Linked DNA regions of Homo sapiens: region 1 is linked to region 2. Evidence: fine-mapped expression QTL. A gene starts in region 2. The other region holds a variant in brackets. All regions are shown on one strand. Distances are from middle to middle.

Evidence for each region. PIP is the estimated chance that this variant, and not a neighbour inherited with it, causes the effect. A credible set is the group of variants that fine-mapping cannot tell apart.
Region 1: its variant is the best candidate, but not a certain one, in a credible set for the expression of RND3 in skeletal muscle (GTEx, PIP 0.70).

The regions. Positions count from the first base shown.
Region 1 is chr2:150,576,211-150,578,998 of GRCh38, reverse strand. No RefSeq gene overlaps it. Among named protein-coding and RNA genes, the nearest start is that of LINC01920, 5.4 kb to the right of the region's middle. The variant C/G (reference allele first, on the strand shown) is at 1,180.
Region 2 is chr2:150,486,068-150,488,855 of GRCh38, reverse strand. It overlaps RND3 (Rho family GTPase 3), which reads left to right and starts at 1,189. Exons shown (of 6, transcript NM_005168.5): 1 at 1,189-1,307; 2 at 1,401-1,588; 3 at 2,075-2,162. The coding sequence starts at 1,439.

The DNA of each region.
Region 1 (2,788 bases), 90 kb before region 2:
TAATAGCCAAAAAATGGGGAAAAGGTCTCAAAGGCATTTGACATTTTGTGGACCAGGCCCAGGCCCTGCCTCCCTGTGCAGCCTCAGGACACTGCTCTCTGCATCCTAGTCACTTCAGCCATGGCCCAAAGGGGCCCAGATACAGTTTGGGCCACTGCTTCACAGGGTGCAATCCATAAACCTTGGTGGCTTCCATGTGGTATTAAGCCTGTGGGTGCATAGAGTGCAAAAGTTGAGGCTTGGGAGCCTTCATCTAGATTTCAGAGGATGTATGGAAATGCCTGGATGTCCAGGCAGAAGTCTGCTGCAGGGGTGGAGCCCTCATGGAGAACGTCTACAAGGAAAGTGCTTAGTGGAACTGTGAGAAGAGGGCCACCGTCTCCAGACCCCAGAATGGTAGAATAACTGGCAGCTTGCACCCTGTGCCTGAAAAAGTTGCAGACACACAATGCCAGCCCTTGAGAGCACCTGTGGGGGCTGAACCCTGCAAAGCCATGGTGGCAGAGCTGCCCAAGGCCTTGGGAGCCTACCCTTGCATCAGAGTGCCCTGGATGTGGGACATGAAGCTAAAGGAGATTATTTTGGAGCTTTAAGATTTAATGACTGCCCTGCTGGGTTTAGCACTTGCATGGGGCCTGTAGCACCTGTATTTTGGTCAATTTCTCCCTTTTGAAACAGAAGTATTTACCCAATGCTTATGCCTCCATTGCATCTTGGGAGTAACTTATTTTTTATTTTACAGGCTCATAGGCAGAAGGGACTAGCCTTGTCTCAGATGAGACTTTAAACTGTGGACTTGTGAGTCTGTGCTGGAACGAGTTAAGACTTTGGGGGACTGTTGGGAAGGCATGATTGTATTTTGCAATCAGGGAAGGAGGTGAAATTTGAGAGGGGCCAGGGGCAGAATGATGTGGTTTGGATCTGTGTCCCTGCCCAAATATCATGTCGAATTGTAATCCTCAGTGTTGGAGGAGGGGCCTAGTAGGAGGTGATTGGATTCATGGAGTGGATTCTTCGTGAATGGTTTAGCATCATCTCTCGGTGTTGTTATTGTGCTGGAATGAGTTAGACTTTGGGAAACTGTTGGGAAGGCATGATTGTATTTTGCAATCAGGGAAGGACATGAAATGTGGGAGGGGCCAGGGGCAGAATGATGTGGTTTGGATCTGTGTCCCTGCC[C/G]AAATATCATGTCGAATTGTAATCCTCAGTGTTGGAGGAGGGGCCTAGTAGGAGGTGATTGGATTCATGGAGTGGATTCTTCGTGAATGGTTTAGCATCATCCCTTGGTGTTGTTCTTGTGATAGTGAATTATTGAGTTCTCACAAGATCTGGTTGTTTAAAAGTAGGTAGTACCTCCCTCCTCTCTCTCTTCCTGCTGCTCCCATCATGTGAGGTGTGCCTGCTCCTACTTTGCCTTCTGTCATGAGTAAAAGCTCCCTAAGGCCTCTCCAGGAGCAGAAGCCACTATGTTTCCTATATAGCCTATGGAATGAGCCAATGAAACCTCTTTTCTTTATAAATTACGCAGTCCCCGGTATTTATGGCAATACCGGGGACTGCGTAACAGTCTGAGAACAGGCTAAGTCTTTTTCTCATAGTATGATTCTTTTTTCTTTGTGTTTCCTGTGCTATTTACTTTATGATTATTAATACTACATTATTTGGTATATGGCTATTCCTAATTATTAAACACTATCGTAAATTTCATTCTTTACCAATCTAAGTTGACTATAATTGTATCATCAAATGCCTTTTTTTCCCCCTACTTATTTTTCTTTTTCTTTTTTTTTGAGACGGAGTCTCACTCTGTCGCCCAAGCTGGAGTGCAGTGGTGTGATCTCGGCTCACTGTAAGCTTGCCTCCCGGGTTCACACCATTCTCCTGCCTCAGCCACCCGAGTAGCTGGGACTACAGGTGCCTGCCACCATGCCTGGCTAATTTTTGTATTTTAATAGAGACGGGGTTTCATTGTGTTAGCCAGGATGGTCTCAAACTCCTGACCTCGTGATCCACCCGCCTCGGCCTCCCAAAGTGCTGGGATTATAGGCGTGAGCCACCGTGCGCAGTTCCTATTTACTTTTTCTAATACTAAGGTTGTAACCCCTGCTTTCCTAATTGTTTGCTTGCATTTTTCTCACATGCATTTTCCCATAATTTAATTTACAACTTTTCTTATTTTGTTTTTTTGTTTTAAGTATCTGTTGTATAAAGCCTACAATTAAATTTAGCTTTACAATTTCCAAAAAAAAAAATCTTTTTTTGGGATTTTGAATAGGCAAATTTGTCCATTAATACATTTATTAATGTGAAAATAATGTTTGATCTTAGAAGTATGTAATATTTTACACCACCTTCATCTCAGTTTTTATTCTTACTTTGTATGGTTTTCTATAAGATCTGTATTTTCTTTGCTTTGTGGCTATCTTAATTCTTATGACTTAAAAGGTTTTCATATTTGTTCTGTATGATTGACATTATACAATGTCCTTAATCCTGTATTTCTTTTGAAAGACTGTTAATTCCTTACTATAAGCAATGACAAAATACATATTGTTCCATTTCTCATTCCTTTCCCTGGCACCATCCAAATTTTGGATGATTATGTGTTTTGTCCTAATATTTGCCTTTCTGTCTTTATGCTTCACCTTTTGTGACTTAACTGTGCAGACTAAAATAATGTTGTAGCTCCACCCGTCATGGGTTGAGAGTTGCCCCTGGTAGCTTAGCTTTCACTGCAAAGCTCCCCCACACTCGCTTTCTGAGCTGACTAGGCTGCCCTGACTTTGAT
Region 2 (2,788 bases):
TCTTCATTGTGCCTTTTCACTTCCCATGTTAAACTTTCTGATTTGTTTGTTTTCACCTTATCTTCTCATTTACAAGCCTAGGAGTCTCCACAGGGGACCATATAAGCTGGTTTTGGCCAGTGTGCTACTACATTGTAACAATTGAAACCTCCTGAGCATTTAGGGTGCAGGAGCTGAAGATGAGAAAAAGAAAGACTTCTCATAGAAAAAGAACAAATGTGCGGGCTATTCTGGTCCTTTCTAAGATTTTTGCTTGCGGGGAAGAGTTGGAGGGCTAGGGAGATGGATGTGGAGGAGGACAGAAGAGAGGGTGGAGGGTTGTATCTGCATTTTTCAGCTAAAGATGTTTGTGCCTTCTGAGTCCAGTCTAGGGTGCTTTGATTCCGGGAAGATGGAGGCTATAGATAAAGAATTAATAGTATCAAAATCTGCCCCCCCACCAGTCCCCTCACTGCAAATGTGGGGAGGTGCAACTAAGCTGACAAGTGTTTGGGTCCCTAGCGCAGTAGGGTTGAGTTTCCAATGGCCTTTGTCACTCAGTCATGGGCATCTTCCACTTCTCTTTCTTCTCCCCTCCCACCTCCTGTACCCACCCCTCGAAACCTTTCTGCCTCCACTTGTACGACTGAAACTGACAGGTTTCAGAAGCCAGTCTACTACCGTGACCCAGGCAAGCCTGTTCTTGCATCTGGAATAAAGAGGCTGATCTATTGGTCCATGGCCTATGTACCTGATACAAACCATTAAAAAAAAAAATAGAACCACTCAACTATTCTCCACCCAAGATTTGCTTCCTATGTTTTATCACTGTCCTTTAACTTGGGTGGGAAATGTTTTTGTTTTCATAAATGCTCATGAGGCTTCTACAGATAAGCCCCTATTAAACTATATTTAAAGGGATTGTAGTTCAAATCAGTATGCACAGATACCAGTTTCCCACCTTGCCCTGTGGACTTGTCAGCAAAGCATCTTTGGGATCTTCATGTTGTCTAAGAGCCTTGGTCTAAAATAGATCCCGAATGGGCACCCTAGAGGGCGCACTGCTTACATTTTCGGCATGCAACGCCAACAGCGCTCGCTCCCAGGCTCCATAAAAGGGGAGGAGGCAGATCAGTTTCCTCCTCTCATTGAGAAAGAAGAGGATTGGAAGGCCGGGCGTATAAAGCCGCGCAGAGAGCGTGAAACAAAGCAGTCGGCTCGGAATTGGACTTGGGAGGCGCGGTGAGGAGTCAGGCTTAAAACTTGTTGGAGGGGAGTAACCAGCCTGCTCCTCTCGCTCTCCTCCTCGTCTGCGCCGCGTTTCAGAGGTTGCCCATCAGCCTTGTGATTTATTTTTATATCTGCTTTTTATAAAGAGAGAAATATATATATATATATATATTTTTTTTTTTCTTCTTAAGAGAAAATTCCTGTTCCAAGAGAAAATAAGGCAACATCAATGAAGGAGAGAAGAGCCAGCCAGAAATTATCCAGCAAATCTATCATGGATCCTAATCAGAACGTGAAATGCAAGATAGTTGTGGTGGGAGACAGTCAGTGTGGAAAAACTGCGCTGCTCCATGTCTTCGCCAAGGACTGCTTCCCCGAGGTGAGTGTGGCCGGCCGCGGCTTCCACGAGGGGGTCGGCCAGTGGGATCCCAGTCCCGAGGTGGGCCTCCCCGCTTTCATCCGTTTTCCCTTAAAAAAAAAAAAAAAGAAAAAAAAAAGTCTTTCTCGGTCCTTACTACTTTCCCCTGATTAGACTGCGGGGAAAGGGAAAGTGCGCTGGAAGCTTTTAGGGTTGGGACGCGCCTGCACATGGGCTGGTTAGCTCCTGAAACTTGTTCGTTCCTGTGTGCATAACCTGGGGTTGGGAGATTCGGGTCAGCAGATCTGTGAGAGCCGGGTGGGGTGAGTGGGGAGTAGGACAGGGGTTTCGGAAAGGGTCCATGTGCTTAGTGTGTGGTCTGATGTGTGAAGGTTTTCTTTCTTAACTGGGGAGCGGGGAGGGGAAGGGTGTTCAATGGGTGTCGTGCGTTTAAACGTAACCTCTTTGCCCTCTTTCCTTCCTCTTTTGCCCATTTTGTCTATCCAGAATTACGTTCCTACAGTGTTTGAGAATTACACGGCCAGTTTTGAAATCGACACACAAAGAATAGAGTTGAGCCTGTGGGACACTTCGGGTAAGAGTGGGAGGACCGCGTGGCGCTTGGGGCGGGTTTCCAGTCGCTGGGGGATGCGCGGCGGGTCTCGGGAAACCGCGCGCTACAAGCCGTCTGCGCCCCTCCCAAGGGATTCCCACGGTCCCTGTTGGGCGAAAATTGTATCCCTTCTGGGTGGGGGCGGCAGACGACAGCGTGGACGAGGAGATAGCAGTGGGGAGAGGAGAGCGCTGTGTGCCCGCAGGGTGACCCCGCGGTTGGAGCCACTAGTGGCCAGGCGCAGTCCGCCCGCGGAGTCGTGGTCAAGTCGCCTTGGGTCGGCCGAGGTGGCCCGATACTGTGGGGTGTTGCATGGGCGCTGCGTGCGCCTCGGCGGAACCACCCGGCTCAAGGCGGGCGCCCCTCCTAGATCTAACCTGCTGGTTGGCGGGGAGGCGGGGAGCGCCGCGGGGGTGATGGGAGGCGGGAGAAAATCCCAGAGGCGACGCGGTTACGTGCAATTGCCGCTGTTGAGGGAAAGAAACTGAGCGCAGGCAGCCGCGGCGCCCGTGACGCCTACACCCAGGAATGCGCTGGTGGCGCAGGGGCCGGGCAGCAGCTGAACCTCCTCTTCGCGCTGCCGGCCGCCCGCGGTGCCTCGGTGCCCA